2 linked regions of the Homo sapiens genome follow. Each later gene encodes a partner of the first gene's protein in a complex. Each region holds a gene or a part of one and is shown on either strand. Other genes may lie near its edges. A codon is read from its position in the direction of its gene.

What was found. Proteins that work in one complex are often made in the same cells at the same time.
Region 2: the proteins of MPP1 (region 1) and GYPC are in contact, whole or in part, in an NMR structure (PDB 2EJY), measured with the Homo sapiens proteins. Residues at the interface, in NP_002427.1 of Homo sapiens: Pro81, Met82, Gly83, Ile84, Leu86, Lys87, Leu88, Leu100, Val130, Gln134; in NP_002092.1 of Homo sapiens: Arg123 (codon at 1,992), Lys124 (codon at 1,995), Glu125 (codon at 1,998), Tyr126 (codon at 2,001), Ile128 (codon at 2,007).

What each region holds. Positions count from the first base shown.
Region 1 is NC_000023.11:154,795,442-154,802,492, reverse strand, and holds part of MPP1 (55 kDa erythrocyte membrane protein), read left to right. Parts: intron 1-2,599; exon of another isoform or gene 2,600-2,736; coding exon of another isoform or gene 2,737-2,748; intron 2,749-7,051. UniProt on the Homo sapiens protein: Essential regulator of neutrophil polarity. Regulates neutrophil polarization by regulating AKT1 phosphorylation through a mechanism that is independent of PIK3CG activity.
Region 2 is NC_000002.12:126,694,131-126,697,191, forward strand, and holds the end of GYPC (glycophorin-C), read left to right. Parts: intron 1-1,815; coding exon 1,816-2,012; 3' UTR 2,013-2,537; downstream 2,538-3,061. UniProt on the Homo sapiens protein: This protein is a minor sialoglycoprotein in human erythrocyte membranes. The blood group Gerbich antigens and receptors for Plasmodium falciparum merozoites are most likely located within the extracellular domain.

The DNA.
Region 1 (7,051 bases):
AAATTCTCTTGGGCCTATCCCACATCAAAAAAAAATCACCTAACAGATAAGTCAGGCTCCAGGCAAATTTCCACCAAGAAAACCTGTTTCTTGGTTCTTAGGCCATCACATGCAGCATTACTCCCCGCTGGTGGTCACTGAGTGTGACGCAGTGTTGTTTGTTGCCTACTCCAGGTCTGCTGCTGGAACTAAGAGGCAAATAAGGAAGGACGCAGACATGGAAACAAATACAGTAGTGTGGTGGTGATGTGATAGAAGCAGCTGTGGAGCGCTGTGGAGCAAGGAGGGGCACCCAGCACAGTGGGCTCTTGCATTTCGCAGTACCTAGGCTGTAACTGGCAGGTGGTACCTGGGCAGAGGGAACAGCCTGTGCACGGACACCAAGGTGCATGCCGAGTGCGGCACCTTCTGCGATGGCAGGAGGTTGAGTCTACGGTGTGCATGATCACTGACTCTGCTTCTGACTAGTTATAATTTCACCTGAGAAAGAACTTTCGCTGCAGACTTGGATCTTGCTGTTTCCTTTGCAAAGGAAATGGTTCCGTTCAAGGCTTTTCTTTTCACAGAACTGATACTAGAAAGTAAAGTGTAATTTTCAAATTATTTAGTCCTCTGCCCAATTTCCCCAGTATGTGGTGTGGTCTCAGCCAGTCTGCCTTTCCTGTCCTTCACTTCCAGGAACTTCATGACTTTTTTCTGTTTTTTGTTTTTTTTTTTTTTTTTTTTTTTTTTTTGAGACAGAGTTTTGCTCTGTCACCCAGGCTGGAGTGTAGGGGTGTGGTCTTGGCTCACTGCAACCTCTGCCTCCTAGGTTCAAGCGATTCTCCTGCCTCAGTCTCCCAGCTAGCTGGGATTACAGGCGCCTGCCAACACGCCTGGCTAATTTTTGTATTTTTGATAGAGACAGGTTTTCGCCATGTTGGCCGGGCTGGTCTCGAACTCCTGATCTCAGGTGATCCGCCTGCCTCGGCCTCCCAAAGTGCTGGGATTACAGGTATGATCCAGCGCCCTGGGCCTTTCATGACTTTTTTTTCAAAACTGGAAGGGCTTAGGATACCTTGCAGATAAGAATCTGCTTTTATTGTGGCTAAGCAGATTTGAGTTTCATCATGAACGTTCTATTCTTTTCTAACTCATTTGTTCTCCCTACACAAGACACTGAAGTATAATAGAATACCAGGAACAGATATTTCAGGTTAAGATCAATTCCCTTAAATTGGAGTTTGCCAACCTGGGCACTGTTAACACTTTGGGTCTGATAATTCTGTTGTAAAAAGTAATACCTCGCCGCTAAGTTGTGACAATCAATAATGTCCTGAGACAGTGTCAAGAGGGGAGACAAAATTAGTTGATGCAGAGATTTTTCTCCTAAGCAGTGAGTTGTCTCTAACCTTTCAGTGTTGCTAAAAAAGAACTCTGGGTGTGGAGTGTAGAAAGGCAAGACTAAATAGCCATATTTCCAAAATTGGCTGGGGTAGGGGAAGTGACGCCAGAGGAGGGGAAGAGGAACTTTCGTAACATAGTCTTGCTTTTCTTTTTTTCTTTCATATGAAGAAATATACATGAACAAAACACATAATAGGTTTTCCCTCAAAAGTTATCTTCCTTGCGAGGCCTTTTCTGCTTTATTTTCCTCCTTAGCACCTGCCATCATCTCTGAATATTCTGCACAGTGCAGAGGCAGCCTTTATGTGAGGGACACAGCACCTGCATTCTCTCCATGTACCTGCACAAACTCCAAAGTCCATGCTTATAGTTTAACTTCTGGAGTCTGAGGCTTACTCATCCTTTAAGCTCAGACAGGTTTCTGAACCATTTCATGTCTTCAAATATTGACCACAGAATGGGGATGAGCATTTGATTTAACGAGTGTTGTTATTTGCACACAGCTCCGGCACTGGTTTAATGGCAGTGTGGGGACTCAGTGCCAGGTATCTGCAGCCCTGTGTTTCTGCTGTGTGGAACGGTGCTACTTGAGTTTCCTGTTGTTTTTTTTCCCCAGTGGAAGCAAAAGCCTTTGCATGTGTACTGAGAGCATGGGGTAGAAAAAGCTCGTTGGGAAGGGATCTCTAGAGACTTGGCCTTTAGGTTGATGTATGTGTTCCCAGATGGATTTAGTACCTGAGAAGCAAAGCACCTGGTTAATGTATGATTTTAAGACAGTACCTGCCAGAATATCCTGGCTCTTAGGCCTTCCTCTCTCCCTAGTTCCTGTCATTTGTGGTTAAACAGTGCTAATCTCTTTCTAATACTTCAGAATACCCTTGGCTTTCTCAGTTTCTCTTGTTTTTTCCCAAAGTGGAATAGGATACTGCCCATGCAAAGAGAGGGAATTTGCGAGCACCTGGGGCCAGGGCTTGCTGGGCAGCTGTCTGGCATCATCTCGCCTTCTTGGACTTGGCTTTCTAAGTCTCCACGTGGGAGCAGTTGGCAAAGAGCCTAACAGTAGGCTGAGCAAATATTTGTTCTTTCCTATGTTCACTGTCACTTAATCTAATTGTTTGGATTAGAAAGCCAACTTCAGTTGCCCCTGCTCTATTCACCCCCGCCACCGCCCGCCCCCCGCCAAGTTTGTTTTTCATCTCTTTTTAAATTCCAGCTTCCTTTGAGCAACTGCCTCTGCCCTTTGAACCCTGCTGCAGATGTTTCCTCTGAAGGGGCTTTCAGAGCGGCAGGCATTGCCACTCCAGCACTTTGTCTGATTAAAGGCCAGAGGCTGCAGAACAAAGGCCAGACATGGAGTCCTGGGTGAGTGTTTATTCCCTGGCTCCTCCTGAATCCCAGCAGTCATCCTTAACAGAGCCACTTCCGCCCTGCCTTGTCACTGGTCAGGGGCAGGCCTGCCATAGCTCTGTGGCCTCCTATATCCACTACAGATGATGGTGGCTGCTTTGAGAGGATGATGTGGAGGTTGTGAACTGAACTCTGAGAAATAGAATCTAGTACCTTTGACCTTTATTATTTGTTCAGCATTACTCATGTCACTGACAGTATATGTCTGCATATCTTTTCTCCTATGATGTGTCAGTAATGAGGAGACATGGGGACTAGTTGAAGGAGTTCTGTAAGATGAGGTCACAGAGAGCTGACCCTCCCTTTCTGAGAGTCTCATGAAGACAGGGTGGCTCAGGGACAAGTTCACGGTGGAGAAAATTGTGCTTTGCTTTTGGAAAACTTACTGTTGCAAGTGTGTACTTTAGTTACCACGTTGGAAGTTTCCGTTTTTCTTAGTCATCATTTGCAACTTCTGGGTAAGCGTGATAGTGACTCTTAGTCATCGTAAAGAGGAACGTCTTGTTGGATAAGCACATCTGAAAGACCAACCTTTGGGATGGCAACTCTTGAACTTTTCCAGCTGGAATGGTTCTGCCTCTAGTAAGCTTTGCTGAGTCTTTAATTTAAAGGCTGACATGTAAAAAGCAATCACTGTAATAAAGCTGGATAAGAAGAATATGACATAGCTAGGCATGGTGGCTCACACCTGTAATCCCAGCACTTTGGGAGGCCGAGGCGGGCGGATCACCTGAGGTTGGGAGTTCAAGACCAGCCTGGCCAATGCGGAGAAACCCCATCTCTACAAAAAATACAAAATTAGCCGGGCGTGGTGGTGCATGCCTGTAATCTCAGCTACTCGGGAGGCTGAGGCAGGAGAATCGCTTGAATCCAGGAGGCGGAAGTTGTGGTGAGCCGAGATCGTGCCATTGCACTCCAGCCTGGGCAATAAGAGTGAAAGTCTGTCTCAAAAAAATAAAATAAATAAAATAAAATAAAATTCCTCTAGCCACCACCACAATGAAGATAGAGAACTGTTCCATCCCCACAAAGGCCTCTCTCCTGCTGTCGCTTTATAGTCACACTTGTCTTCCTCCCTACCCCATCCCCGCAACTCCTTGCAGTCACTACTCTGTTCAATGTCTCTATGATTTTGTCATTTTAGGAATGTTATATAAGTGGAATCATATAGTATGTGATGTTTTGAAATAGATTAGCTTTCTTTCAGTCAGGATAATGCCTTTGAGCTGGATCCCAAGTTGTTTTAGTATCAATAGTGTTTTTTGTTTTAATTGCTGAGAAGTGTTCCATGGTATGGATGTACCACGCTTTAACTGTTCACCTGTATTTTGGTTCTTTATAGATTTTGGCTGTTATAAATAAAGCTGTTATGAGCATTCATGTACAGGCTTTTGAGTGAACATAAATTTCCATTTCTCTAGGTGAATATCCAGGAGTGTCATCCCTGGGTTTTATGGTAGTTGTGTGTTTGGTTTTTTAATAAAGTGTTCAACTATTTTCTATGGAAGCCATATCACTTACATTCCCACCAGCAATGTATGAGATGCCCAATTTTCCCTCAGCTTCACCAGTTATGAGTATTGTCACTATTTTTTTATTTCAGCTATTCTGATAGATGTGTAGTGATATATCATTGTTGTTTTAATTTGCATTTCTCCCTGATGGCTAATGATGTTGAATATCTTTTTATATCCTCATTTGCCATCTTTATATATCCTCTTTGGTGAAATATCTGTTCATGTTTTTTGCCCATTTTCTAATTAGATTGTTCGTTTTTACTGTTGAGTATTGAGCACTCTCTTTTTATATTCTATATACCAGTCTTTTATTGGATATGTGGTTTGTAAATGTTTCTCCCGGTCTGTAGCTTGTATTTTCACAATCTTCATGTGGGCTTTCACAGAACAAGAGTTTTTCATTTTGATGAGGTCCAATTTACCAATTTTTCCTTTAATGGATTCTGCTTTTGATGTCATGTATAGGAACTTTTTGCCTAGCTCTAGATCCTGACAAGTTTCTTCTATTTTTTTCAAATATATTTTCTAGTTTTGCACTTTACATGTAAGTCCATATCCATTTTAGAAGGTAAGGTTCAGGTCAGCATTTCCCTTTTTGGTGATGAGTTTCCAATTGCTGCAGCACCATTGAGTTGCTTTTGCATCTTTGTTAAAAATCAACTGGGCATATCTCTGTGGGTCTGTTTCTGGGTTCCCTATCCTGTTCCCTTGATCTGCATGTCTATACCACATAGTCTTTACTGAGACTATACTACAGTAAGTTTTGAAACTGTGCAGACTGAGTCTTCCTACTCTCTTGTTTTTCAAAATTATTTTAGCTTTTCATGGGTCTGTACCTTTCCATCATGTATACGTGCTTTTAGTGTAACCTACATGGACCAAGTGAGTGAAAGCACTCGTGTATGAGAAAAATAACACCCCAGATATAGGGTGATCGGTAGCCAACACTGGCTTCTGGCTGAGGCATCAGTAAGGAATGTGAGAGCTGGGGCCACCTGGAGAGCGATGCCAGATCTTCTGATACTTTAAAAAGAAGTTGGAGTCCCCTGATTTTTACTAAACAAAACAGAGACATGTGGTCGAAATAAAACAGTTTGCAACTTCTGCTTTGGAGATTTTTTCTTTTCTTTTTCCAGAGATAGAGTCTCGCTCTGTTGCCCAGGCTAGAGTACAGTGGTGCTATCATAGCTCACTGCAGCCTTGACCTCCTGGGCTCAAATGATCCTCCTGCCTCAGCCTCACGAGTAGCTAGGACTACAGGCACATGCCACCACACCTGGCTTGGAACTTTATGTAATGCATTCACTCCTTCATTTATTGTCCAACCAATGCAGATCCTACTTCTTGACTCCCCACTTTGTAACAGAACAAGATTACAGGCCTCTTCCTTTCGATTTTTCTCCCCTTTTTACCTGCCAACTTCCTATCATGGACATGTGTACCTTAATATTGTCATGGTGCTGATATTTACAGTCTGTTATTTGTTTCATGATTTGTTTCTAAGTGAGTTCTAAAAAGTAAAAATCAATAAGTGGTTTTTAGATTATTATAACTGGTTGCCAATCCAACATCCCACTTCTCACTTACATATCCCTGATCTTGTTTGGGATGGCAAGATGCTCAACTAAACTAATCTTCCCAGCCTCTTTGGCTGGTGCCTCCTGTATGCACATTCTAGGCTCTAGCTGTCTCAACTCTCCTTGGTCATTCCTCCATCTGCTTTCTGTCTTCTGGAAAGCTATTGAAATCTTGGCCGGGCATGGTGGCTCATGCCTGTAATCCCAGCAGATTTGGGAGGCCGAGGCAGGTGGATCACTTGCGGTCAGGAGTTCCAGACCAGTCTGGCCAACATGGTAAAACCCCGTCTCTACTAAAAATACAAAAATTAGCCAGGTGTGGTGGCGCTTGCCTGTAATCCCAGCTACTCGGGAGGCTGAGGCAGGAGAATCGCTTGAACCCAGGAGGCGGAGGTTGCAGTGAGCCGAGATCACGCCACTGCACTCTAGACTGGGTGACAGAGTGAGACTCTTTCTCAAAAAAAGAAAAAAGAAAAGAAAAGAAAAGGAAAAAAAACAAAGAGAAAGAAATCCTTCAACCCTGATGACTTTTTGTGGGTTTCTATTTCCCTCCTCCCGTTTACTCTTACTTAAACAGGGTCAAGGTTGAGGCAGGACAAGATCCACACAAGTACTTGAACCTGAGTCCCAATCACTTTGGAAAATTCTTTTACTAATTTATTTTATTAAAGTAACACAAGCACATAATACATAATTTAAAAGGTATAACTTGATACACAGTGAAAACAATTTCCTTCTCACCCCATCTTATAGCCACCCAGTTCCTCTCCCTAGAAGCAACCACTGTTTCTTATGTCTCCTTCCAGACATAGTTTATGTATTTTCATTTATTTTATTTTTTGAGACAGGGTCTCACTCTGTCACCCAGGCTAGAGTGCAGTGGTGTAATCACAACTCACTGCAGCCTTGACCTCCCGGGCTCAAGCAATCCTTCTGCCTCAGCTTCCCGAGTAGCTAGGATTACAGGTGCACGCCACCATGCCCGGCTAATTTTTTTATTTTTTGTAGAGACGAGGTTTTACTATGTTGCCTAGGCTGGTCTCGAACCCCTGACCTCAGGTGATCCTCCCACCTCAGCCTCCCAAAGTGCTGGGATTACAGGTGTGAGCCACTGAACCTGGCCAGTTTATGGATTTTTAAGCAAATATGAATATAATCATTCTT
Region 2 (3,061 bases), on another chromosome or scaffold:
TACATCGTACGTATCTATGTATGTATTTATTGGCCTTTCTCAGGGCTTTTGACTCACAGGAACTCAGGAGCTGGAGAGGCAGCAGTTTTGGTGAAGGAGGTTGAGGGTGGAGGTGAGATGAGGGTAGACTGACCAGGCTACTTAGACTTCTCCACCATCTCCCTCATCCCACATTATTTTCTGCCCTGGGTCCATGACCCTCAACCCTCCATCCTCAAGGAAACTTGATCCTGCCTTTGCCTTGCTTTGAACCCTGGGCAAGGGGCTCCCCATGGGTCATGGCTGTGACTGCAAACTGTGTTTGAAGAACAACCAAGTTTGGGAGGTGCTGTGTGCTCTGCGACCTTCTTTGAGATCCACACTTCTCAGCAGCTTATTAATAACTCAGGAAACATCTACAATTTGAAAAGAAAGAAAAAGCAGCAGAAGCAAGCAATCAAAGACACCTGTTGGACTCTGTGTAACCTGGCATTCTCCAACTCATTGCACCACTGAGCTTTTATTCTTCCTAGATGATATTATTAACATTATGCAGATACAAGTGTTCCCCTGAAGGCAGTAGGAAGTTTAGGAAATTGTTCTATAAAGGTGGGACTTGGGAGCAGTTTCAGACTTTCCATATTCTTCAGCAGTCCCTCCCCAAGGCCTCCAAATAAACCTGCATTCTAAGAAAAGACAGGCTTGCTCTGCAGCTTCAAAGTAAATGCCCAAACTCAAAACACCCCCACCCCATGAGACTGCTGCCCCCTCACTTTCAAGGTCCTGAGTGATCTGACCCCTCCTGAGCAGCTTCACACTGTACTTCCCCACCCCTCTGGAGTCCCAGCAGAAGTGAGGGGTGACCGCCCCTCGCACAGCCACCACCTTGGCATCCTCTGCATTACCCTCTCCCACTTCAGTCCTTTGTGTGGCCAAGTCCTGCTCCTCCAGCAGATTCGCCCCGTCCTCAGTCCCCAGGAGGGAATGGGAGCAGGGTAGGGTGAGGAGCAGCCATCAGGCCATTGAAAAACACAAACCACACAACCTTCCCCAAGCACAGTTAATAGCCTCATCTTTTTTCCCCCTGTATAGTGTACATAGAGCAACCAGCTCTGCCCTGTTTTCTGGGACTTTCCTGGTTTTAGAACGGAAAATCTCCAAACAAGGTTCAGTCCTGGGGTATGATTCTAACGTGTCTGCAGAGTGCTTAGAGTGGTTAGTAGCAGAACTGTGAGGAAGAAAAAGAAAAGGGAGGGAAGGAAGGAGAGGAGGGAAGAGGAAAGGAGAATCATTTTAGGAAGGCACAGGTTACAGTGCCACCACACAACAGGTTGGTGAAGCATGGGGAAGGAATGAACTGGCCTGTTTGGTGTTGGTACAGTTGTCTCCAGTGTACACGGTTCAACTTATGAGTTCTTGAGTTTGGAATGGCGTGAATGCAAAAGCATTCAGTAGAAACGGTACTTTGAATTTTGAACTTTGACCATTTCCCAGGCTGGCAATATATAGTATGATACACTATATTATAAAATAGTCTCTGGGTCAGATGATTTTGCATGACTTTAGGTTAATGTTAAGTGTTCTGAGCCTGCTTAAGGTAGGCTAGGCCAAGCTTCGATGCTCAGTAGGTTTGGAGTATTAAATGCATTTTTCATTTACAGTATTTTTAACTTATTATGGGCTTACAGGAACCTGGCTCCCATCATAAATCAAGGAGCATCTCTTTTGGTTGTGGCATTGTATCTGTCCTCACACAACCCCTGTGGGTCTTGACCACCATCCCAGGCCCCAGAGCCCCTGCCTCAGACTGACCCTTGCACCTCTTCCCACCTGCAGGTGTGATTGCTGCTGTGGCCATCGTCCTAGTCTCCCTCCTCTTCGTCATGCTGCGCTACATGTACCGGCACAAGGGCACGTACCACACCAATGAGGCCAAGGGCACGGAGTTTGCTGAGAGTGCAGATGCAGCCCTGCAGGGAGACCCTGCCCTCCAAGATGCTGGTGATAGCAGCAGAAAGGAGTACTTTATTTGAGGGACAACAGACTTCACTTCCCTGAATGCCTCCCCCATCTCCATCAGGAAAAATACACCCCATCGCCCAGCACCCCTGCTGATACCACCAGACAGAGAGAGAGAGCACTTGATTCTTCCCGAGATAGCCACCTGGAAACACTAGGTGCCTGCCCAGGGAGGAACGGAGGAGGACTCGCGCTACAAGAGGCCACTCCCAGGGACCCAGGGAGGCGATGGCCACCCCAGAGGCCACCTTTTGCTCCACGGAGGTGGGAGAAAATCTGGGCACATGGGGCCCCCTGGGCAGTGCAGGACAACATCAGCTCACTGGCAGGAAAGTCCTTGTTGAGGGTGAGGGGGTGCTGGGGTACCCGGGGGCTGGGGAAGCAAGGAAATAAGTCATCTGTATGCTGACTGGGGATAATGGCATCAAATGTCAGTCCTTGACATTTGGGGGGAACAGCAGGTGCCAGAGCTAAAAGGTACCTTTGTCTGCCATTGATCCAGCTCAGAACGATTGGAAATAAATTTGAAATGTAACCGAGCATTCCGAGTCCAACAGTATTACTGTAGTTATCTGGGGAAAGATAAACGCCACCCAGGGCTTGCTTTTCACCTGTGCAATATTATATTCTCTGACGGGGCCAGGACAGTTCATTTCTGGCTCTTGTGGGGGCCAGTTCCCAGAGAGCACAGCCAGTACAGGCGGCTCCCAAGCCTGCCAAGGGAGGAAGGACAAGTGACCAGCTTTCCTTTCCCTACAGGGGCACCAGCTGCAGGAAACAAAAGGAAGGGTGAAATGTCCCTCTAGAAATAGCCGTTCCCAGTGGCCAGGGCACTAGCTGAAGTGTTGATTTTCCAAGGTGCAGTATTAGAACAAATGGACCTGATCCAAAAATATGAGTGAGTCTTGTCCTTCCAATCACAGTGACCGTGGCACCCAGGGGTGGAAGCAGAGGCTGCAGAGCTCCGCTCGATGGCTTTGGGTCCCAGCTCCCCTTTCCTGGTCCCAGGACCTTGAACAACTTGTTTGACCCCTCTGGCCCCCGTGTTCTCCTCCCTCACGTA